Linked DNA regions of Homo sapiens: all the other regions are linked to region 3. The links come from fine-mapping of genetic effects on gene expression. A gene starts in region 3. Each other region holds a variant in brackets. All regions are shown on one strand. Distances are from middle to middle.

Region 1 (8,174 bases), 810 kb before region 3:
CCAGGTAGGCAGATCATCTGAGGTCAGGAGTTCAAGGCCAGCCTGACGAACATGGTGAAACCCCATCTCTACTAAGCCCCATCTCTACTAAAAATACTAGGCATGGTGGCGCACGCCTATAATCCCAGCTGCTCAGGAGTGGGAGGCAGGAGAATCACTTGAACCTGGGAAGTGGAGGTTGCAGTGAGCCGAGATCACACCATTGCACTCCAGCCTGGGCAATAAGAGCGAAACTCCGTCTCAAAAAATAAATAAATAAAAATAAATATTCTCTAACGCTTAAACTAATCCTATGAGATAGAAATTATTCAAGTCCTCATTTTATAAATGAGGAAGCTGAAGTTTACAAGACCAGTGCTCTAACCCCTGAGCTATGGAACCAACTGCGAAGCTGAAGTTTAGAGCAGGGCAGTAACTTGTAGATCACAGCTTAGTTAAGTGGCAGAGCCAGGAGAGGAAGAAAGCCTGTCTGATTACAAATCTCAAAAGTAAGAAAGATGTCATCCAGGGAAATGAGAAGGATTGTCCTGGAGGATTTGAGAATCATGTGTGGTATTTCTGTTCTGATCTACCTAGCTGTTTGAGAATAATAACCATCTATTAACTATACTTAATAGATGGTTTTACATTTCCAAAGTGAAAAAGAACAACAGTACAGGTAAGCGATGAAAGAAGGCGCATCTGGGGGCCGGGCGCGGTGGCTCACGCCTGTAATCCCAGCACTTTGGGAGGTCGAGGTGGGCAGAACACCTGAGGTCAGGAGTTCGAGACCAGCCTGGCCAACATGGTGAAACCCTGTCTCTACGAAAAATACAAAAATTAGCCGGGCATTGTGTGTTGTGGCGTGCACTTGTAATCCCAGCTACTAGGAAGGCTGGGCCAGGAGAATTGCTTGAACACGGGAGGCGGAGGTTGCAGTGAGCCAAGATTGCGCCACTGCACTCCAGTCTGGGTGACAGAGCGAGACTGCCTAAAAAAAAGAAAGAAAGAAAGAAGGCGCATCTGAATCTTTCCAGCCACAGGGGAAATCCTGCCAAAACGCAGATAAATAAACCCCCTGAAGTCTCTGTACAACACATTTATTCAAACCTGCTTTGAATAATTTGACAAATCTGCTTAACAATGACCTGATTAAAGGGTAGACACAAAAAGGAGGTGGCACAGTGATTTTCTAGTACATTTTTCTTCTTAGGAAGCTCTTTACAGCTATTCTATTGGAGAGGAACAACCATAGGAATTATTGAAATGGCAAAACCCTATATCCTCTGGAAAGCATTCTACCCGCCTTTCCCCTTCCCCCTCCCTGCCAGTGGCTCTCAGAGTTCAGCATGCATAATAATCCCCAGGAAGGCTTGTTGAAATGAGGTTCCTGGGTCCCACCCCAGAATTTCTGATTCAGTAATTCACACGCGGGGCTCAAAAATTTGCATGTCTGTGTAGGGGCGGAGAGGGTGTGATCCCTTTCCTCCTGATAGTAAGAGTCAGGAGGACACTCCAATAACAAAAGGCAGATTAACAAGAGAAAAGCATAACAAATTTATCTAATCCAAGTTTTACTTGACAAAGGAATCTTCAGAGATGAAGATCGAAAAACTCAGGAAAAAAGTGTCTGTTTTTATGCTTAGCTTCTCTGAAGAATGGACAGCTGTGTAGAAATGTGACTGGACAAAAAGGGAACGACCTAATGGTAATAGACTGAGTGGGGAAACCCAGCAAAGCCTGATTTTTTTTTTTTTTTTTTTTTTTTGAGACGCAGTCTCACTCTTGTCGCCCAGGCTGGAGTGCAGTGGCGCGATCTTGGCTCACTGCAACCTCTGCCTCCTGGTTCAAGCCATTCTCCTGCCTCAGCCTCCCGAGTAGCTGGGATTACAGGCACGCACCACCATGCCCGGCTAATTTTTGTATTTTTAGTAGAGATGGGGTTTCACCATGTTGGCCGAGCTGGTCTGGAACTCCTGACCTCGTGATCCGCCCACCTCGATTACAGGCTTGAGCCACCGAGCCCGGCTGACAATGTATTTTCACATGTACTTGAGAAAATGTCCTGGTGTTCCAGATGCTAGCAGTTTCTAAATATGAAATACACATTTCTGGAGATCCATTTTGCAGAGAGGCATTCCCAGTTTGTTTGTTTGTTTGTTTGTTTGTTTTGTGACAGAGTTTTGCTCTTGTGGCCCAGGCTGGAGTGCAGTGGTGCGGTCTCCGGTCACTGCAACCTCCACCTCCCGGGTTCAAGCGATTCTCCGGTCTCATCCTCCCAAGTAGCTGGGATTACAGGCGCCCGCCACCATGCCGGCTAATTTTTGTATTTTTAGTAGGGATGGGGTTTCACCATGTTGGTCAGGCTGGTCTCGAACTCCTGACCTCGGGCAATCCGCCCAACTTGGCCTTCCAAAATGCTAAGATTACAGGTGCGAGCCACCGCGCCTGGCCTCCCAGTATTTTTATATCAAAGAATTTTAAAATATTGTTTTCAATAAAGATGTAAACTTTCCCATAGAGAGTAACCTAATGTCTGAAACTAACCAAAAAAAAAAAAAAAAAAAAAAAAAGGAAGGAAGGAAGGAAGAGAGGGAGATAGGCTTTCAAAAAATATGCCTGTGCTGGAATTGCGAATTGTTCCTTGATAAAAGTCCTCTGTTGAAAGGCATTCCTTTAGACCCTGAGACTCACCTGCTGAGGCAGCACTGAATCTTCCATTTCTGTCTCAACCACAAATGGAATGCTCAGGTCAAGACTCCACGCCTACACATGTGCCTGGGGCAGTCTCATTTTTAATTCCATGCCTCTCTTGATGCCTGTAAAAAGGTATATGGTAATATAAACATTATATCATGTTTACAGCTAAGAAGACTAAAAGGAAAAACAAGATGTTCAGGATGGTTCTTTCTAAGTAATTGAATTGCAGGTGGTTTTTCATTTTTTCTTTTCACTTTTTGTATTATTTACATTCTCCATGGTGAAAATGTAATGTTTCTAAAGTTAAGAGAAAATATTGTTTCATTTTGTTTATTTGTTTTAGAGATGGAGTCTTGCTCTATTGCCCAGGCTGGAGTGCAGTGACACCATCATACCTCACTACAGCCTCGAACTCCTGGGCTCAAGCAATTCTCTCGTCCCAGATTCTCCAGTAGCTGGGACTGCAGGTGCATGCCATCTCACCTGTTTTTTGTTTTGTTTTGTTTTGTTTTTTGTTTTTTTAGGTGGAGGCTTGCTCTTGTTGCCCCGGCTGGAGTGCAACGGTGGTAAAATTTCGGCTCACCATAACCTCTGCCTCCTGGGTTCAAGTGATTCTCCTGCCTCAGTCTCCCGAGTAGCTGGGATTACAGACATGCACCACCACACCTGGCTAATTTTTGTATTTTTAGTAGAGATGGGGTTTCGCCATGTTGGTGAGGTTGGCCTTGAACTCCTGACCTCAGGTGATCCTCCTGCCTCGGCCTCCCAAAGTGAGCCACCACGCCTGATCTCGCCTTGCTATTTTTAAAAGATTTTTTGTAAAGATGGGGCTCTCACTTTGGTGCCCAGGCTGATCTTGAACTCCTGGCCTCAAGCGACCCTCCCATCTCAGCCTCCCAAAGTGCTGAGTTTATAGGGATGAGCCACCACACTCAGACTTTCTTTTAATATGAAAGCTCATACTCCGGCTCGAACTCCTGACCTCAGGTGATCCGCCTGCCTTGGCCTCCCAAAGTGCTGGGATTACAGGTGTGAGCCACCACGCCCGGCCAATCTTCTTTTTTTTCCAGAGACAATTTACTTTTTTTTTTTTGATATGGAGTCTCGCTGTTGCCTAGGCTGGAGTGCAGTGGCACGATCTCAGCTCACTGCAACCTCTGCCTCCCGGATTCAAACGATTCTCCTGCCTTAGCCTCCCTGAGCAACTGAGTCTACAGGCACACACCACCATACCTGGCTAATTTTTGTATTTTTAGTAGAGACAAGGTTTCACCATGTTGGCTAGGCTGGTCTCAAACTCCTGACCGCAGGTGATCTGCCTGCCTCTGCCTCCCAAAGT[G/T]CTGAAATTACAGGTGTGAACCACTGCGACCAGCCGACAATTTACTTTTGCTTTTGCTTTTGCTTTTGCTTTGGCAGACGGAGTTAAAGTAGATTTTACCTTGATTCAAACAGGCATTGAGTTTGTTCAAAACTAATTTCAAAATTTTAGGCCAGGCTCAGTGGCTAACGCCTGTAATGGAAGTTACAGGCCATTTGGAAGGCCGAGGCGGGCGGATACCTAGAGTCCAGGAGTTTGAGACCAATCTAGGCAACATAGCAAAATTCTGTCTCTACTAAAAATACAAAAATTGGCCGGGCGCGGTGGCTCACACCTGTAATCCCAGCACTTTGGGAGGCCGACGCGGGTGGATCATGAGGCCAGGAGTTCGAGAGGAGCCTGGCCAAGATGGTGAAATCCCGTCTCTACTAAAAATACAAAAATTAGCTGGGTGTGGTGGCGCACGCCTGTAGTCCCAGCTACTTGGGAGGCTGAGGCAGGAGAATCGTTTGAACCCAGGAGGCGGAGGTTGTGGTGAGCTGAGATCGTGCCATTGCACTCCAGCCTGGGCGACGAGAGTGAAACTCCGTCTAAAAAATAAATAAATAAATAAAAATAAAAATACAAAAATTAGCTGGGCAGTGGCTCATGCCTATAATCCCAGCTACTTGGGAGGCTGAGGCACGAGAATTGCTTGAACCTGGAAGGTGGAGGCTGCAATCAGTTAAAATGCACCACTGCATTCTAGCCTGGGTGACAGAGCCAGACAAGACTTCATCTCAAAAATAAAAAAATAAAAAAAATAGCCGGGCATGGTGGCTCACGCCTGTAATCCCAGCATTTTGGGAGGCCAAGGCCAGCAGATCACCTGAGGTCAGGAGTTTGAGACCAGCCTGGCCAACGTGGTAAAACCTCGTCTCTACTAAAAATACTAAAATTGGCCAGGAGTGGTGGCGCGCACCTATAGTCCCAGCTTCTCAGAAGGCTGATGGAGGAGAATCGCTTGAACCTGGGAGGCAGAGGTTTCAGTGAGCTGAGATCAGGTCACCGCACTCTAACCTGGGCAACAGAGGAAGACTCTGTCCTAAATAAATAAATAAATAAATAAATAAATATATAACAAACTGGATTTCATTCTTTATGAATTAATAGTCTCTTCTTGGGCCAGGCACAGTGCCACATGTCTGTAATCTCAGCACTTTGGGAGGACAAGGTGGGCGGATCGCTTGAACCTAGGAGTTCGAAACCACCTTGGGCAACCTGGTGAAACCCCATCTCTACCAAAAATGCAAAACTTAACTGGGCATGGTGGTGTGTGCCTGTAGTGCCAGCTACTTGGGAGGTTGAGGTGGGAGGATGGCTTGAGCTCAGGTGGTGGAGGTTACAGTGAGCCAAGATTGGGCCACTGCACTGCAGACTGGGCAATAGAATGAGACCCTTACTCCAAAAAAAAAAAAAAAAAAAAGGTCCATTCTCAGCTCTTCATTATTCATAGAGGAGTCCTTGTCTAAAGTTTTATTATTTAGTTACCAGCCTCCCAGTTGTACAGACACTGCACAGACACTCAGTCCTTCAGTCACTGCTGAAGAGCCAGCAGATGCCATGTCCAGCTTTCTCTCTCTCTAGGGTCTTGGCTCCTGAAATTCCTTGTTCTGTGGAAGCCTCTCTGATGCTTCCTAATAGTTTTTTTGTATTGATCCAGCTTTCCTGGTTGGTCTCAGCAAACAATTGGTCTGCCACAAGCTATTTAAGCCACAATCCAAACTGGAAGTTTCTGCTTCTCATTTTTGAGGTTGGCTTTCATTTCCTCATTGATTTAAAAATTCTAAAAAATACATGCTGTCCATGAGCCCTGGTGCTTCTTTTTAGGGAAAGCCAAAATTTAGTAGTAGCATTTTAAAAATCAATCAGATTTTTAAAATGAAATAGATGCTAAAAGTGATAAAGAACTACCAGGCACGGTGGCTCATGCCTGCAATCTTCCGGGTTCACTCCATTCTCCTGCCTCAGCCTCCTGAGTAGCTGGGACCACAGGCGCCTGCCACCACGCCCGGCTGATTTTTTGTATTTTTAGTAGAGACGGGGTTTCACTGTGTTAGCCACGATGGTCTCCATCTCCTGACCTCATGATCCGCCCGCCTCGGCCTCCCAGAGTGCTGGGATTACAGGCTGAGCCACCGCGCCCGGCCCCCTTGGCTTTCTTGACACTTGGTGTTATGGTCTGAATGTTTGTGTCTCCCCAAAATTCATATGTTGAAATCCTAACCTCCAAGGTGATAGTATTGGAGGTGGGGACTTTGGAAGGTGATTAGGTCATGAGGGTTCAACCAAATGAGTGAAATTAGTGCCCTTATAATAAAAGACCCCAGAAAGCTGGCTCATCCCTTCCACCATGTGAGGACACAGCAAGAAGGAGCCATATATAAACCAGAAAGTGGGCCTTTGCCAGACACCAAATCTGCCAGTGCCTTGATCTTGAACTTTCCAGCCTCCAAAACTGTGAGAAATAAATTGCAGCTGCTATTGGCCACCCAGTTTACAGTATTTTCTTATAATAGCCTGAATGGGCCGGGCCTGGTGGCTCATGCCTGTAATCCCAGCACTGTGGGAGGCCAAAGTGGGTGGATCACCTGAGGTCAGGAGTTCGAGACCAAGCCTGGCCAACATGGTGAAACCTCATCTCTACTAGAGATACAAAAATTAGCTGGGCGTGGAGGCATGCGCCTGTAGTCCCAGATACTGGGGAGGCTGAGGCGGAAGAATCACTTGAAGCCGGTAGGTGGAGGTTGCAGTGAGCCAAGATCGTGCCACTGCACTGCAGCCTGGGTGACAGAACGAGACTCCATCTCAGAAAAAAAATAATAATAGCCTGAATGGACTAAGACACTCACTTTTCCTATTTCTCTGGATATTCTTCTTTGTCTCTTTTGCCACTTCATCCTCTGCAAACAATACATTCAAAGTTGGACTTTTTTTTTATTATTATTTTTTTGAGACGGAGTCTTCCTCTGTCGACTCTGTCTCAAAAAATAAATAAATAAAAAAATATAATCTGATCCTTTCACCACATTGCTTTAGTGCCTTTAATGGCTCTTTCTGCTATTGGATAAGTTAAACTCTCACTTCACCCTGCGTGGTCTGACCACTAACTTCCTCTTACACAAGCCCAATATCTCCACCTGGCTAGCTATAAAATAGAATCTTAAACCCTAAGGACTGCTTTTCTCATTGGTTTCTTTCTTTCTTTTGAGACAGAGTCTCCCTCTGTCACCCAGGAGTGCAGTGGCGCAATTGAGAGGTGACAGCGTGCTGGCAGTCCTCACAGCCCTCGCTCGCTCTCAGCGCCTCCTCTGCCTAGGCTCCCACTTTGGCGGCACTTCAGGAGCCCTTCAGCCCACCGCTGCACTGTGGGAGCCCCTTTCTGGGTTGGCCAAGGCCGGAGCCGGCTCCCTCAGCTTGCAGGGAGGTGTGGAGGGAGAGGCGGGGCTGCGCGCGGCGCTTGCGGGCCAGCTGGAGTTCCGGGTGGGCGTGGGCTTGGCGGGCCCCGCACTCGGAGCAGCCGGCCGGCCCTGCCGGCCCCGGGCAATGAGGGGCTTAGCACCCGGGCCAGCGGCTGCAGAGGGTGTACTGGGTCCCCCAGCAGTGCCAGCCCACCGGCGCTGCACTTGATTTCTCACCGGGCCTTAGCTGCCTTCTCGCGGGGCAGGGCTCGGGACCTGCAGCCCGCCAAGCCTGAGCCTCCCACCTCTCCCCCGCCATGGGCTCCTGTGCGGCCGAGCCTCCCCGATGAGCGCCACCCCCTGCTCCAAGGCGCCCAGTCCCATCGACCACCCAAGGGCTGAGGAGTGCGGGCGCAAGGGCGCGGACTGGCAGGCAGCTCCACCTGCAGCCCCAGTGCAGTGATCCACTGGGTGAAGCCAGCTGGGCTCCTGAGTCTGGTGGGGCCGTGGAGAACCTTTATGTCTAGCTCAGGGATTGTAAATACACCAATAGGCACTCTGTATCTAGCTCAAGGTTTGTAAACACACCAATCAACACCCTGTGTCTAGCTCAGTTTGTGAATGCACCAATCGACACTCTGTATCTAGCTGCTCTGGTGGGGCCTTGGAGAACCTTTATGTGGATACTCTGTATCTAACTGATCTGACGGGGACGTGGAGAACCTTTATGTCTAGCT
Region 2 (8,174 bases), 110 kb after region 3:
CCTGGCTGAGAGATCTTCACGACCTTTATTGCACAGACTGGGAGAGAGGAGCAGGGTTATACCTCCCAACCCCACCATCCTCTTCATTTAAAGCATCAGCCTCCTCCCCTGCCATTTCTGTTCAGGGAGGCACAGTGTTCCCCATCTGTCCAGGGCTGCAGGTCCGGCAGCGGGGCCCCGTCCCAGCTCCCCAGGCCTGGTGAGCTCCAGGCTAGCCTGTGCACTGTCCTCTGAGTCCAGGCCCTTGTAGGTCCCCAAGATGGTGGGGGTGCAGGGACAGAGAGCTTGCTGTTCTGCTCCTGATGTCACACAGGGGCTTCCTGTGTGTCCTGGCATCAAGATGGCCTTCCACAAGTCAAGTGGCCACATCCTCAAGGAGCTGGCTCAGCCACTCACAGCTCCTCCCGAACCCGAGGTGCCCTTCCAGTCTTGTCTTGGACCCTCTGGTGCCTGCGGCTAGGGGGCTCTGGGGAAGGGTCTTTGCTGGGCATTTCTTCCTCTTCCTCTTCCTCCTCCTCCTGTGACTCCTGCAGCAGTTCTTTGGCTTCTATCCACTCCTGGGGTTGGGGAGGAGAGTGTGGCCCATTCCCTGCACCCACCTTCCCTGGGTCAGCTCAGCCCCTGACCCTCACCGACTGTGAGCCTTCTCGGGGGCTCCTTGCCCACCCTTCACGCACCAGGAGAACCACATCCCTTCCTACCCCGCTCCTTACCTGCTCCCTGTGCTCAGGTGCCCACGTGTGCCACAGTGCCAGGGCACAGCGCCGTCCCCGAGTCACGGCCCACACCCCATGGGGATTCTCGACACCGGAGCTGAAGGCCACAAGGCGCCCACAGCGAGGACGCACCCGAGCCTGGAGGGATGAGGGCAGGTTCAGCTCCAGGGATTGGCTCTCTCAGAGAACTTGGCCCTCACTCCCTAGAGCAGGATGGGGACAGGGGCACAGAGAGGATCAGCTCTCTCGCTACCACTTCCTACTCCTTAATTCAGGGACTAGCTTGGGGCAAATGAGAAATCAGCTTCAACTTGCAGAGCAAAAATGCAAGAGGAGTTGGGAACCAAAGGAAAAAGGGGTCTCCACGGATGGTCTCCTGTTGGTTCCTGACCCCTGGTACCCTGATTTTTCCCACTCAGCCCTTTGAATCCAGGGCTTGAAGCAATCTGGGGCTGTGCATGCAGTACCAGACTCTATGCAGAAGGGGATACAGATATTGGAACCATTTTCACACCCCACACCCAGATGAACAATCACTGCCCCTCTCCTCCTACCCAATCCTAGCCCCTGGTGTCCGGAAATTTCCCACCTAACATTCATTAATTGCTTATCATTACCAGGCGCTGCCTCATTCTTTTAGGTACATTACCTAAATTACTTCCTACAATGACCCTTTAAAATACGTACTATTATTATCACCCCAGTCTAGGAAACTAAACCTCAGAAAGGTTCAGAATCCGAGCCCCAGTCAAGGCGGCCCTGGTATCTGTGCGCCAGCCACTGTGCTCACCTCGCTGCAAAGAGGAAGGACTATTTCAAGTTCCCCAAATCCCTAGAATAGGGCCATGGAGTCCTGGAGGCACCTGCAAGCTGTGCTTCATTCACCCTTCTTTAGGAGGCGAGACAAATACTGATGGTAGGGTTGATTCGGCCACTTAGAGACCTTGCTACGGAGGAAGCAGCGGGAGGGCTGCGGAGGCGGGGAAGTGAAAGGGTTAAAAGCCCTGGCCATTTCCCTGCATTTGCCTCTGGAGCCTTCTGTTTTGAATCCTGACCCCACAGCTGGGCCCTTTGTCACACCGTCACACCCCCCACTCCACGCACCGTGACAGTGAGGGCGTTGGGCTCCGTGAAGAACAGGTCCCCACCCTGGAAGTCATCGTTGAGGTAGAGGAGTCCGCTGGGGAGGGAAAAAAGCAAGAGGCAGTGAGACCCCAACCCAGGCCCAGGCCGGCAGTGGGATGACCTTTGTCTGCCCACCTGCCTGACCACTAGAGGGGCTGCCCACCTGTAGTCCCGATAGGTGTAGGCTGGGGGCTCCCGCCAGCACTCTCCCGTGTCAGGGTCCAGGACGCAGTTGTCTGCGTGCACTGGGTGACTCAGGTCCATGCGCTGCTCTTGCTCTCCTAGGACACAAAGGGGTCTGGGGGTACCTCTGTGCCCCTGTGCCCATCTGCCACCCTGTGGGCTCAGGCCGTGCACGTCCACCCCGGGGCTCTTGGGGGCAGTGTCCTGGGGGCAGGGCCTGAGGTTGGAGAAGAGCAGTGGGGGGTCCCTGTCGTACCTTCTATGGCGCTGCGGCACACCAGGTGGGTGAAGGACAGATGCAGGGGCCGTTCCGGGGAGAAGTAGGCCTGGGTCAAGGTCCGCACCCGCTCGCTCACCTCCAGAAGCAGCTTAGCACCCTGACTGCCCACTGTCCCAGCCCGGGCCAGCTGCAGGCAGTGAAAGGCAGGGCAGAAAAGGAGGAAGGCAAGGGGAGGGTGGTCTCGGCCCTAGCCCCTGCCCAACTCTGCCGCTCTCCACCCATGGGTTTGGAGTCTGTCAGCATCCAGCTCTGTCCATCAGCCCAAACTGCTCCTTCTCTCTCCATGACAACAACCCCGGCCCCAGCTCTCAGAACATCCCTTTTCTCCACGCTGGGTCCTATCAGGTAGTCTCGGTCCCAAGAAAGCTCCTTCACAAAAGCCCAGGCCCTGGGGCCCGGCTTCCTGCACAGCCTCTCCTCCAGGTCTGGGCATCAGACGGGCCCGGGTGCCTCCTGTGCTCACCTGCGCAGCCTTAAGCACCGTGAGCCCCTCGAAGCGTTCATGGGGGGTGTGAGGGGAGCGGCGACCACGATAGCCAGACCTGGCTCCAGCCCCAGCTGCATCCTAAATAGGAAGGAGTTTACCGTGGAGTCACTCCCCCAGCCCCTCACTGTCTGCAGGGCTGCAAGACCCTCCCTCCGGCCCTCCCGCTCTCCAGAAGAAGCTAGATGCTCCCACAGTTCTGTTGTGGCTCGTCTTCCTGAGCTGCTGCTCTTTCCCAGAGAGTGCCCACCGCCACGGCTGTCCGATTGTCCCTCTCTGGTACGGGCTGGAATCCCGCTTACTAAGGGGACTGTGGAGAGAACTCGGGAGAGCTTCCTACAGCAGTAAGGGGGCCTCTGAGAGGGTAGGGACAGCTGGAAAAGTGGGGCAGAGCTGGGAACTAGGCAGGAAGGGCTTGATCATTAATCCCCGATGAGCCAAGAATAGAGGAGTCCCTCTGGAAACAGGACCCTAAGAGGAAGTTCCACAGTTAGGCCAGACTGGCGG[T/GT]AGGGAGACAGCATCAGCGGGCTATCCCTCTCTGACCTCTTCCCACCTGACATGCTCTCGGAGAAACTGTGGACTCCGTGGCTCCCCCACTCCTTGATACTGAGTCACAACTACCCAGCCACCTCCGCGACCACTCTCACTACCTGGGGGTCTCCTAATATCTGGATGTCTACACTGGAATTATTCGCTTTTCTGACACCCGTTTTTTGTCTACTTTTTGAATTTGTTTAAGCACCACTATCTAGTTACGCCTGCATACAAATCTCACTTCTGAGAGACACCTAGTCACCCAAGCCGTCTAACCTGGGGTTTTTTTTTTTTTTCATTTTTTGTTTTTGAGACGGGGTCTTGCTCTATCGCCCAGGCTGGAGTGCAGTGGCGCCATCATAGCTCACTGCAATCTCCACCTCCCAGGCTCCAGAGGTCCTCCCACCTCAGCCTCCCAAGTAGGTGGGAACATATAGGCGCATAGGCCCAGCTAATTTTTTGTATTTTTGTAGAGACGGGGTTTTACCACGTTGCTCAGGCTGGCCTGGAACTCCTGGGCTCAAGCCATTCGCCTGCCTCAGCCTCCCAAAGTGCTGGGATTACAGGTGTGAGCCACCTCGCCAGCCAACGGTGGCATTCGTCAATTACTCCCCTTTTCCGGGTCTTTCTCCCACTGCATTCTACAGACTGCCACTAGAGGGCTCTACCACTCCTACAGGTGACTCCAGACCCTGCACCTGATTCCAGGTACTACAGGAATGCAAAAGTCAACCGTCCTAAAATCCTGCAACAGCTGTCTACCATACACAGATAAAGCCCAAACTCCTTGGGAGGCCACAGAAGACACTCACTGTCCCTCGGCCTTCATGTGTGGGCTCTCTCCCTCTTTCCCTATACTGTCTCTTGGTAACATACACCCTGATGATTCTATGTTCTTTTTTAATTAATTAATTAATTAATTAATTATTTAAAAAAATTTATTTTTCGAGGCGGAGTTTTGATCTTGTTGCCCAGGCTGGACTGCAATGGTGCGATCTCGGCTCACTGCGACCTCCGCCTCCTGGGTCCAAGCGATTCTCCTGCCTCAGCCTCCCCAGTAGTTGGGATTACTGGCACCTGCCACAATGCCCACTAATTTTTTTGTATTTTTAGTAAAGACCGGGTTTCACCATGTTGGCCAGGCTGGTCTTGAACTCCTGACCTCAAGTGATCCACCTGCCTTGACCTCCTAAAGTGCTGGGATTACAGGCATGAGCCACCACACCCAGCCAGTGATGATTCTGTGTTCTAAGAGCTTTATCATGTGCTAACTCATTTAATCCTCACAACGACACTATGACAAAAACACTATTATTATCCTCATTTTATAGATGAGCAAATTAGGCTCAGAGATGTTAAAATAAATTGCCCAAGATCACACAGGTAATGACTATGGAGCTGGCCCTGCTCTCACCCCTGTGCTTGACTGCAGTTCCCAGAATGCACCATGCTCTTCTCCCTCTTAGACTGATTCCACCCCCAATCGCCTGACTAACTCATCCTTAAGACTGAGCTCAAATACCACCTCTCCAGCAAGCCTTCTATAACTGCATTTCAGTGCTTCTATTTGACATACTTTTTTTTTTTTTTTTTGAGATGGAGTTTCGCTCTTGTTGCCCACGCTGGAGTGCAATGGCACGAGATCAGCTCACCACAACCTCCGCCTCCCGGGTTCAGGCGCTTCTCCTGCCTCAGCCTCCCGAGTACCTGGGATTACAGGCATGTGCCACCACGCCTGGCTAACTTTTTTGTATTTTTATTAGAGACAGGGTTTCTCCATGTTGGTCAGGCTGGTCTCGAACTCCCAGCCTCAGGTGATCCACCCACCTCGGCCTCCCAAATTGCTGGGATTACAGGCATGAGCCACCATACCCAGCCCAAAAACATACTTCTTTTACCAAACTTACCACCTGCTTATATTATGTATTTCCTTGTCTGTTTCCACCTCTACACTTGAGCTCCCAAAGGGCAGAGTCTATAATCATCTTCCTCTCCCTAGAACCTAGCAGTTTCTAGTGTATAGCAGCTACTCAGTGAGTATATTACTGAATGAGCACTAACCTAAGATAAGGGTTGAAGCTTCATAAAATGGTAGCCTCAACCTGGTGAGTATGAGTCATTCAACCTAAACTAGGAGGGAAAGAAAGGCCTGCGTGTCTGCTGAGCCATCAGCCAAGCCAGTAACTAAACTCTTGGCTAACCAAGCAATCCTTACCTGCACACTCATCCATTTTTATGCCTTCATGTTTTTTGTTTTGTTCTTCCTATCAATTTCTAGCAAAATTCATTTGTAAAGAACATCCACCTATGTCAGCTAAATTAAGACGAGACGGAACTTATCCACAGCTGAGAGGCAGTGGTAAGCACAGTCCCGGTTGGATAATCAGGACAGGCAGAATGAAGGGGGCAGGCCAAGAGCAAGGGAACAGGTGATTGTATCCAAGAGTCTTGAACGAGCTGATGAGCTTGCAGGTCTTCCTACCTTAGCCAGCTGCAGCAGCACCCCACACTCGGCTGGGGTGAGCAGCCCATCCAACACCGCCCGCTCCGACCCATTCAGCTGCCTGGAATCCTGGGTCAAGGTCACACCCTCCAGGAGAAGGACATCTGCCAGGGAAAAGACAGAGCAGAGGGGGCTGAGCATCCCCTAAGGGCAGGCAGAGCAGTAGCTGGCAGCCCCCAGACCCTCCAGGCTCCTGCCTTCTCCCTCCCAGGAACTCACCCTTCCAGTAGGTCAAGGGCTTTGGCTTCACGGGCTCATGGTCCCAAGGCCTCTTCTCTTGATCCTCTCTCAGGGGTGAGAGATGCGCTCAGTGGGTGCCCAGGACAGTCCAGACCCAGCCTCCCAGCTCGGGCCAAGCCCCTCCCACCATGGGGCATATCCTACCTGAGCTTTTCTCTAAGTGCCTCAGGGATGAGAGCTGCAGGGGTCCAGGGGTCCTGCGACAGTCCAGAAAAGCATCATCACCCACCAAGGTCAGCCCCTGGAATCCCTGACATTAGAGCTGAAATATCTCATTAAGTTTCTTCTGTTTCCAGAGAGGAAGACGGAGGTAGGAAAAGCCCGGGACTCAATGTCAGGAGCCCTGGGCAGTGGATCAAACTGTAACAACAAGTACAACTATAACTCATATAGCACTTACTATCTGCTAGGGGCTATTCTAAGAGCTTTATTCATGGAAATGGAATTTATCCTTTAAAGTTCACAACAGTCTCATGAAACAGAATATTAAAGTGCTCATTTTGTAATTGAGAGCCCTGAGACACAGAGAAGTAAAGTAACATGCTCAAGATCACACAGCTACAAATGACAGGGTTAGTTGTTTTTTGTTGTTGTTTTTTGTTTTTTGTTTTTTTGAGACGGAGTCTCACACTGTCGCCCAGGCTGGAGTGCTATGGCGCGATCTCAGCTCACTGCAACCTCCGCCTCCTGGGTTCAAGCGATTCTCCTGCCTCAGCATCCCAGGTAGCTGGGATTATAGGCGCCCGCCACCACGCCCAGCTAATTTTTTGTATTTTTAGTAGAGACAGGGTTTCACTATGTTGGCCAGGCTGGTCTTGAACTCCTGATCTGGTGATCCACCTGCCTCGGCCTCCCAAAGCAGCGTTAGGTTTTAAACTAGCTGCAGGCCGGGTTCCGGTGGCTCACGCCTGTAATCCCAGCATCTTTGGGGGTCCGAGGCGGGTGGATCACCTGAAGTCAGGAGTTCAAGACCAGCCTGGCCAACATGGTGAAACCCCATCTCTACTAAAAATACAAAAATTAGCCAGGCAAGATGGCGGGCACCTGTAATCCCAGCTACTCAGGAGGCTGAGGCAGAAGAATCGCTTGAACCTGGGAGGTGGAGGTTGCAGTGAGCCAAGATCGCACCATTGCCCTCCAGCCTGGGTGACAGAGTGAGACTCTGTCTCCAAAAATAAAAATAAAAATAAAAAAAACTAGCTTCAGAGTTCACACATTTAGCCAGTCGTTCTCAAGCAGGACACTTCTGCCCCCAGGGGTCATTAGGCAAAGTGTGGAAACATTGATTGCCATGACTCAGGGGCTGTCAATGTGCTATTGATCTCTACTGGGTAGAGACCAGGGAAGCTGCTGAACACCCTCCAAGGCATAGGACAGGCCCTGCCCTCTGCCCCAACAAAGAATTATCCAAAATGTCAGATCCAAAATATCAGTAGCGCCAGGAAGACTGAGAACGCCTGCTTGATGCCCTAGTCCTAGCCATAGATAACCTCCGCCCCGCAGTTTCCTCTCATAACTACAAGAAGAGAAATAAAAGCAGCAGTAACAGAGCTTTCTATATTTTGTTATCAAATGATGTGGTTTCAACAGCCCTGTGAAACAGATGTGATTATTCCAACTTACAGGTAAGGAAATTGAGGCAGAGGCAAGTTGAAGTTCAGAGATGTTTGGGGCAGAGGAGGACTGACATTTAGGCCTGCGTGACCCCAAAGCCGCCCTAACTACAGGCACACTGTCTCCGTCCCTGTAAAACTGGGATGGCAGACTCTTCTCCAAGCCTCATGGTGGAAAAATGGAAAACTCTGTTGCAAACCAAAGTGCCATCCCTCCTGGGAGTGCGGAGGGGTGAGATGGGCAGAAGTGGAGTGACTCACAGGATCCTTGAAGCTGGTCCCCAGGTGCTCCATGGCATAGTAGAGCTGCCTCTTCTCCCCCAGGGATCGGAGGATGAAGCGCTGGATGTCCTGAGGGTGAGATGATGAGCAGTGAGGGGTAGCTGGAGGAAGGCAGGGAAGCGCCGGCTCTAGGGCACTGCCTGGGTGCTCCATGCTCCTTGAACCTGGCACCATGCCCCCCGGTTCCTCTGTTCAACGTTCCCCCTCAGCAGCT
Region 3 (8,174 bases):
GTCGCCCAGGCTGGTGTGCAGTGGTGCAATCATCGCTGACTGCAGCCTTGACCTCCCAGGCTCAAGCAAGCCTCTCACCTTAGCCTCTCCATAGCTGGAACCACAGGACGTGTGCCACCACACCCAGCTAATTTCTTATTTTTTGTAGAGACAGGGTCTCACTATATTGGCCAGGCTGGTCTCAAACTCCTGGGCTCAAGCAATCCTCTCGCCTCAGCCTCCCACAGTGCTGGGATCACAGGTGTGAACCACTACACCCGGCCAAGGCTGTCTATTTTCTGCGTAATACTTCTGAGAATCTGCAATGATCCAATTTATTGGGTTATTTGTTCGGTCTGTAACCTCCCACTGGAATGTAAGCTCCGTGAGAGCAGAGACCATGTCTGTCTTGTTCACTCCAGTATTACCAGCATCTTAAACAGCACCTGGTGCATAATAGATGCTCAACACGTACCTGTTGAATGAATGATGCAGGGGAAAGGGAAGTGAAAGGAAACAAAGAAGATGGGACCAAAGTCTGATGTTGGGAAGTGCGGAGAAGTTGGCTGGACGTGGGAGGGCCTTCGCGGGTGGCCTCTGACTGCTATGTTTGAGGTGTTGTGAGCTACCCAGGGGGACAGGTCCTAAGCAGGAGGCAGAAGCAGGAGCCCAGAGGCTGGAAGTAGAAATGCAATGGAGAGAACAGATACACACTTGTCCAGGGGAAAATGTTAAAGAGGGGGCAGAGGAGCATGAGTGAGCCGGGGGTCCTCACACCTTGCGGGAAGGGGAAGTTCATAGGGACCGGAAACAGGCGCAGGGCAGCGGCAGATCGCACTCACGTTCACACACGTCGGAGTGAGCATCAACAAAGCCCTCCCTCCCTCCAAAACTAACAGGAGACTGGGACCCCGATGGTGCCCGGGACTTACCCACGGGACAGCATCTCTCTGTAGGGAGGGGGAAGCCACGGCAGAGGGCCGCAGGGGGCGGGGCTGAGCCAGCGGCACAGCTGTGCACAGTGGCCCAAGCCAGGTGAGGAAGAACCGCTCAGTAATCAGCCACTTCCTCCTCGATCCTGCCTGCCAGGCCAATGGCACTGCAGGGACAAACCCTGGACTAATAGTCTCCAGGAAAAGGACAGGTGGGGCGGGGCTGGCCCGAGACCGCCCACAGCGGCCAGCTTCCCTGCAGCCCCAAAGCGGGAGTACAGCAGGCCCGCCTGCTGGTCCAGGGCCGCCTTCCCCCGGGAGAGGAGGAGCCACCTGGAGCTCCACCTGGAGCTCAAGCTGACAGAGCGGCGGGGTATTGGGTAGGGGAACAGACCAGGAAGTAACCCTGGCTGAGGAAGAGCAACCAATGGGGGAAACCTCTCCGTAGGCGGAAACCAAAGGGCCTAAGGAAAATCCCTAACAGCCCAGTTCCTCAGAGAAGGAGGTACCCCCTGTGCAGGCCCACCCACCCAGGGCGCTGAGGGACCCACTCCAGCCTCTCAACCTGCCCCGGGGGAAGGGGAGGAGCCTCAGGTAGGGTTAGGCCCTGGGGCAGGGTTAGGCCCAGCCAGGACCATAGGGAGGAGCTGTTCAGGGGGATGGGGCCTGGAAAGGCAGAGGGAATCAGGGAAGGAGAGATGGGGGTTGTCAGGTCCGCAAGAGACTGACACCAAGGCTAAGTCACAGGCGCATTTATTATTGTCTGGAACATCAAGGCCTTTCCTCCCCTGGCAGTGGCACAAGGGAGGGCCAACTCTCAGGAGGCGGCCACGCTGCCACCAGCAGCAGGCCCATGGGGTGGCAGGGTCATGGGCGGCAGAAACAGCGCCTTCAGCTTGCCTGACAGGCTGGCGATCTCAGGATCCTGGGCTTCGTAGGACTTGACCAAGCGAGCAAACTTAAGGACACCTGCAAGAGGGAGTGGAAGGTCAACCCTTCTCCTAAGGACCAGCGTGCCTAAGACACCTGGAGGGGGTGGTAGTCTAAGCATGAACTGCTCCCCCACTGGCTGGGCAGCTGTTTGCCAAACAGGACGCATGCAGGCCTCTGTCCCGTGTGGTTTGGATGATGACATTTGGTCTACACTGGGCACAACTAGATGGGATGCAGTGAATGAAAATGTCCCAAGGCAGTGTGCTTCTTGCTCTCAGGTGAACCATTTTAGCAGTTTAGTCACTGGAACCCCAAGAATGAACACGAGACCCCAGGTCTGTAGCTGGAACTCAGGAAGGCTATGAGGCAGCAGAGCTGAATCAGTCAACACCTTTGGGGAACACCAGGATCTCACCAAAAATTTAACCACCAACCCCCCCCAAACAAAAATTAGCTGAAACACCCTGGAGAGACTGCAGCCACTGCTGTCATGCAGACATGTCACTAAAAGGTGGCACAACAGCATTTAAGTCCAGCTCTGCTACTCGAGAGTCTGCACCATTAGAGTTTGCTTCCTCATCACAAAATGGAATAATAATGTGATTAACAGTACAGGTTGACCATCCTTAATTAGAAAATCCAAAATCTGAAATTATGAGTGCCAGTGTGAGGCCGAAAATGGAAAATTCCACACCTGACTTCATAGTGGGGGGTGGGGGAGACTGTAGTCAAAACGCAGTCAAAACTTTGTCTCATGCACAAAATTATTCAGACTATTATATAAAATTACCCTCAGGCTATGTGCATAAGGTGCGTGTATATGAAACAAAACAATTTCGTGTTCAGATTTAGGTCCCATCCCCCAAGATATCCATGTATATGTAAATATTCCGAAATCTGAAAAAACCCGAAACACTTCCGGTCCCAACCATTTCGGGTAAGGGATACAGAACCTCTACTGTACAAAACGCAACTCGGACGCACAAGCTCAGGGTAGACCCTGGGCTCTGAGTGCCAAGAATGTTAGTCAGATTGTGGCTGCCGCCGTGTGGCGAGAAAGGGGACAACCGCTCATGGGCCCACAGATCCGGCGCCCTCTCCCGACCCAACTCCCGCCTTCCCGCGTCTGACCCGCCTTCCCGCGTCTGACCCACCTTCCCCGTCGCAGCTGAAGCCATAGGCTTTGATAACCTCCTGCTGGATCTGCGTGGCCACGGGCAGCACGAATTGCAGCATCTTACCCATGTCGTTGCAGGCGTTATCCCGAGCCTCGTCCATGCGCACTGCATTCTCCGGGGCGGAGAACGCCTGGATCACCTCCGCGAGGACCACTGCGCGCCAGAAGCATCCCAGGGAGGCGTCCCGGGTAGGCGTCGGAGAACAGACAGCGGGCCCAGCGGAGAGCGCAAGGAATTAGTGGATTGAGGCTGTAGGTAACCCAATAAGATCCCAAGTCTTGGGGGCAAGCGCCCCACTTAGAAGGACGGTACCCGGCGTCCCCTACCCCATTTTCCCGGCGGACGTAGCCAGGTTTGTCGCCCCACATCCTCCGCCCGCATCCTCCCCAGACCAGCAGCCCATGCCTTGACTACCCCAGGCCAGCAGCCTATGCCTTGACTAGGACGATTCTCACCCTTTGCTTGCTCAGCGCTCAAGGCCGCCGGTTGGGTCGAGGCGGACGCCATAGGGCGTCTGAAGCTCTAGGTTCAGCGGAGGTAAATGGAAAACTCACGAATAAAGAGCCACGTCCTACAACCGTTCCCAACGCCCCTGGGAGCGGAAAGGAAACAGCATCCGGCGCAGCCGGAAGCGCCCAGGCGTGGCCCAAACCTTCATACCCCAAGCTTACAACTGCATCAAGACCACCAAAACTACCCATAATTTTTGCACAGTGAAAACAATCTATCATTGGCAACAAACATCATAAGAGGGGCTTTCCGGTAAAAAGCCAGAAAGCCTACTAGACAAATTCTAAAAGAGCTGTAACACTGCTGCGTATGTGTTTGGAGAGAAGATGGGATATAAAGGAACTCCACAATTGATGAGGGTGAGCTTAGGTGACTTTTTTCTTGTTCCTATTACTGTATAAACAACGACGCATGTGGTAACTTTCAGTAGGAAAAATAATATTCTAAGGAACTTACTTAAGTCATTCATTTCTAGAGTTCGCGAACATTTGTTCTCAGCCCATGCAAATGAGTTCGGTGCTGATTGGTTGAGAAAGCAGCCAGTCACAGCCCCTTCGTTGTTGTTAAGCCCGGAGACCTGGATTCGGCAGTAAAGGCCCAGAGCAAAAGCCGTTGTCGCAGTTTCCTAAAGGCCTTGTCTATTGATGAGCGATGGAGCCTAATGCCCGGCCCGATTTCCCTTCCCTTCCAGGCTTTTATCACCCACTCCCTTCTCAAACTGTAGGTGGTTAAGGATGCCAGGTACTAATCGCCTGGACCTATTAAAACTAGCCCACCCCACCCCCGCTTCATAACCGGCTTTGTTTTTTGTTTTTGAGACGGAGTCTTGCTCTGTCGCCAAGCTGGAGTGCAGCTGGGGGGGATCTTGGCTCACCATAACCTCCACCTCCCGGGTTCAAGCGATTCTCCTGCCTCAACCTCCCAAGTCGCTGGGACGACAGGCGCGCGCCACCATGCCCAGCTAATGTTTTGTTTTTAGTAGAGACAGGGTTTTGCCATGTTGGCCAAGCTGGTCTGGAACTCCTGACCTCGTGATCCGCCCGCCTCGGCCTCCCAAAGTCCTGGGATTACCAGCGTGAGCCGTCGCGCCTGGCCTCATAACCGTTTCTTAAAGTATTCCACGGAAAGGTTTCAGGACTCTGAAGCCCTTGTTCCGGAGGACTCTGGTGGCTCCTAGCAGTGAGACCCGTCTGAATAGATTCCTAGAACTGACCACGTCAGAGGTGGGCCTGTCCCAGGCCTCTAGTGTTTGGTTGGTTGGGGTGTCTTTTGTTTGTTTGTTTTGAGATAGGGCCTTGCTCTGTCACCCAGGCTAGAGTGCAGTGGTGCGATCATGACTCACTGTAGCCTCGACCCCCAAGTGATCCTCCCACCTCAGCCTCCTGAGTAGCTGGGACCACAAGTGCACCACAACCCCCAGCTGATTTTGTCTTAAGATGGGGTTTCTCTATGTTGCCCAAGCTGGTTTCCAACTCCTGGGCTCAAGCAATCCACCCGCGTCTCACAGGCATAAGCCACAGAGCCCAGACCGAGGCCTCCACTGGCGCGCAGCGGTCCTGCCCAGCCTTGGGGCAGGAGGGGGCACCAGCACCCATGGTACCGCCTCCAGCTGAGTCAAGGCTCTGGGCTCTTCAGGGATCCCCTCTCCAATTCTTCCCAGCCCCCACACCCCGTTCCTTAAGAAGGTCTGGTCTCTTCCCGCTTCCCTGCCAGGCCCTGGCTGCAGTTCTCTCTAAGCACCGCTGCACTGAGACCCAGCCTCACCCCCATATCCCGCAAAGAATAGTCACAGCCATGTTCCTGGGGAGTTGTGAGGATGTTTTTGTTTGGTTGGTTTTGGTTGGGATGTTTTTTTAAGAGCGTCATATAGATATTTATATATATAAATTATTAGTGTGGGGAAGGGGCAAGGGGCATACATTGCAGAGGGGGCGCGCACACAGGGATCGGGGAGGGGCAGGGGTGGCACACGATGCTACGCAAAACAGCCACATCTAACAGATGAAATAATCACACCAACGGGGCAGGGGAGGGGCGGCGGCCACAGGGGTTGGGCATGGGGGAGGAGAAAAGCAGGGGGGACAAGGAAGAGAGACCTGGTCCAAGATTCTGTGCGCTTTCTGTCCCCATCCTCGCCACCTCCCCACCTCTGCACACCACATCGGGCCTTGGCCTTCTGTCTGTCCCTCCCTCCCCCACTCTCTGTCCAGCTGCGGAGGCCCTGCAACTGAGCAGCACCCTCTTGGCTCTGGGTGGCAGGCCAAGGGCACGGTGGGGGGAGGGTGGGGGTGCTCCAAGGTCCAATGTAGGAGCCATGGTGCTCTCTTGATCGCAGGTTCTACAGTGGCTTGTCGCTTTCCTTCTTCAGGTGACTAGGGAAGGGGCAGTGCATAGCAGAGAGGTAAGAGACTTGAGACCAACTCTGACCTTGCCCCCTCTTACCGAAGGGGTTGGGAGAGGAGGGGTTCCCTCCCCCAGGAGCACGGTGCCCAGCCGTACCATGCCCACAGCTCCTCCCAGGCTCGCTGAGCCCATGTCCCCTGGGCTGGGGCACCCTAGGGTACCTGTAGTAGTCCTCCTGGGCAGGCAGCGGCACACTGTGCAGCGGGTGATGGGCATGCAGCCACTGCTGCTGTTCCAGCGCCAAGCGCTGCAGCTCAGCTGACTGTGCGTGCATGGCCTGCAGCTGATGAGCTGCTGACATCGGGGCAGAAAGGGAGGCCGGCAGGTCCCGGTAAGGGGCAGCTGTGAGCAGGAAGGGCAAGGGGCATATGACCAACGGATAACAAGTACCTGCTCTGGACCAGGGGATAGCCAGCTCCTTTACATACAAAGGTAATGAACTAAAAAGTGAGGTAACACACCCAGTTCTGTAAGTTGCCAGTGGTAGGGTGGAATTGGGATTCGAACCTCTTAGGCTGACACTAAAACTCGTGCTTCTCTTGGGCAGAGCTCCAGCTCTCCTATTCCCATGCCCAGCTCCTCTAGGCACCTCCTCATCCCTCCCCAAGCCCAACTAGGCCCATCCCCCCACCCAAATACCTCCTTTCTGCCCTTTTCTCATTGGAGCTGCCTACCCCAACTTCCATCCTTACCAAAGAGCTGGTGACGAAGAACTTCGTTCTCGTGCAGAGGGTGAGGAAGCAGGGGGTTAGGGAGAGTTCCAGCTGGGTAGGGGATCCGGGTAAGGTGAGACCCTGAGGCCAGGGGGTCAATGAGAGGGTGCACCGAGGCAGAGGCTGGAGGGCAGAGAAGAGGAAGGTGTCACCAGAAGGCAGGTTTGGGGCAAACCATGCATTTGGGTGAAGGGATCCAAGCCTGGGAACTGAGTCAGACAAACACAAGGAGGTCCAAAGTGGAACAAAGGCAGAGTGGAAGAACTAGAGGCCTGGCAGGGGTGGACAGGCTGAGCCCTACTGGAGGAGGGACATATGGATGACACAGGACAGGAGATTACAGTCATCAGAAGGGTCTGAGGGGAAGGACAGAGAGAGGTAGACTGCGTGAAGAAGGTGGAAGATGATAGAAGTTTAGAAAATAAGACAAGAAGAGGCCGGGCACAGTGGCTCAAGCCTATAATCTCAGCACTTTGGGAGGCTGAGGCAGGCAGCTCACCTGAGGTGAGGAGTTCAAGACCAGCCTGGCCAAGATGGTGAAACCCTGTTTCTACAAAAAATACAAAAAAATTAGCCAGGCAGGGTGGCACACGCCTATAGTCCCAGCTCCTCGGGAGGCTGAGGCAGGAGAATCGCTTGAACCTGGGAGGTGGAAGCTGCAGTGAGCCGAGATCGCGCCACTGCACTCCAGTCTGGGCAAAAGAAAAAAAGGAAGCCGGGTGCGGTGGCTCACGCTTGTAATTCCAGCACTTTGGGAGGCCAAGGCGGGTGGATCACAAGGTCAAGAGATCAAGACTATCCTGGCCAACATGGTGAAACCCCGTGTCTACTAAAAATACAAAAATTAGCTGTACTTGGTGGCACACGCCTGCAGTCCCAGCTACTCGGGCAGGCAGTGCCTGCTGAGGCAGAAGAATCACTTGAACCCCAGAGGCGGAGGTTGCAGTAAGCCGAGATCGCGCCACTGCACTCCAGCTTGGTGACAGGGCGAGACTCCGTCTCAAAAACCAAAAAATGGTGAAAGGATAGTAAGTAAAGCTCATTATCGCCTATGACACCCAAACCCAAAGCTACAGGGCCCTTTCTAGAAAGTTACAGATCTAGAGATGGGGAAAAACATGAAAGACCTCGCAGAGGGAGAAGAGGAGAAAATGGCAAAAAATGAGTTGAATCCAGAGAAATCAGAAGATAGGTTTGTGGGTTGGGCACGGTGGCTCACGCCTGTAATCTCAGGACTTTGGGAGGCCGAGGTGGGTGGATCGCTTTGAGCTCAGGAATTTGAGACCAGCCATGGCCAACATGGCGAAACCCCGTCTCTACCAAAAATACAAAAAGTAGCCAGGTATGGTGACACACGCCTGTAATCCCAGCTACTCCAGAGGCTGAGGTAGGAGGATCACTTGAGACCGGGAAGTCGAGGCTGCAGTGAGCTGTGATTGCGCCACTACACTCCAGCCTGGGTGGCAGAGCCAGACCATGTCTCAAAAAAATAAATAAGAAGACAGGTTTGTGAAGGGCTTGGGAGA

The links. PIP is the estimated chance that this variant, and not a neighbour inherited with it, causes the effect.
Region 1: its variant is fine-mapped to the expression of C12orf57 in whole blood (INTERVAL, PIP above 0.99).
Region 2: its variant is fine-mapped to the expression of C12orf57 in whole blood (INTERVAL, PIP above 0.99).

Annotation. Positions count from the first base shown.
Region 1 is chr12:7,751,741-7,759,914 of GRCh38, reverse strand. No RefSeq gene overlaps it. Among named protein-coding and RNA genes, the nearest start is that of CLEC4C, 8.5 kb to the right of the region's middle. The variant G/T (reference allele first, on the strand shown) is at 4,019.
Region 2 is chr12:6,831,680-6,839,853 of GRCh38, reverse strand. It overlaps P3H3 (prolyl 3-hydroxylase 3), which reads right to left. Exons shown (of 15, transcript NM_014262.5): 6 at 7,940-8,029; 7 at 6,210-6,262; 8 at 6,045-6,112; 9 at 5,805-5,929; 10 at 2,768-2,869; 11 at 2,281-2,431; 12 at 2,005-2,122; 13 at 1,821-1,896; 14 at 714-854; 15 at 7-557. The coding sequence ends at 393. Among named protein-coding and RNA genes, the nearest start is that of GNB3, 5.2 kb to the left of the region's middle. The variant T/GT (reference allele first, on the strand shown) is at 3,296.
Region 3 is chr12:6,939,477-6,947,650 of GRCh38, reverse strand. C12orf57 (chromosome 12 open reading frame 57) reads right to left here and starts at 3,629. Exons shown (of 3, transcript NM_138425.4): 1 at 3,478-3,629; 2 at 2,999-3,175; 3 at 1,649-1,880. The coding sequence starts at 3,529. The coding sequence ends at 1,729. ATN1 (atrophin 1) reads right to left here. Exons shown (of 10, transcript NM_001940.4): 8 at 6,628-6,771; 9 at 6,097-6,277; 10 at 5,330-5,904. The coding sequence ends at 5,871. It overlaps RNU7-1 (RNA, U7 small nuclear 1), which reads right to left and starts at 3,835; the gene lies at 3,773-3,835. It also overlaps a transcript of PTPN6 not described here. RefSeq lists silencers at 997-1,046, 3,080-3,339 and enhancers at 1,193-1,801, 1,687-1,806, 1,802-2,412, 2,973-3,122, 2,662-3,241 and 3 more.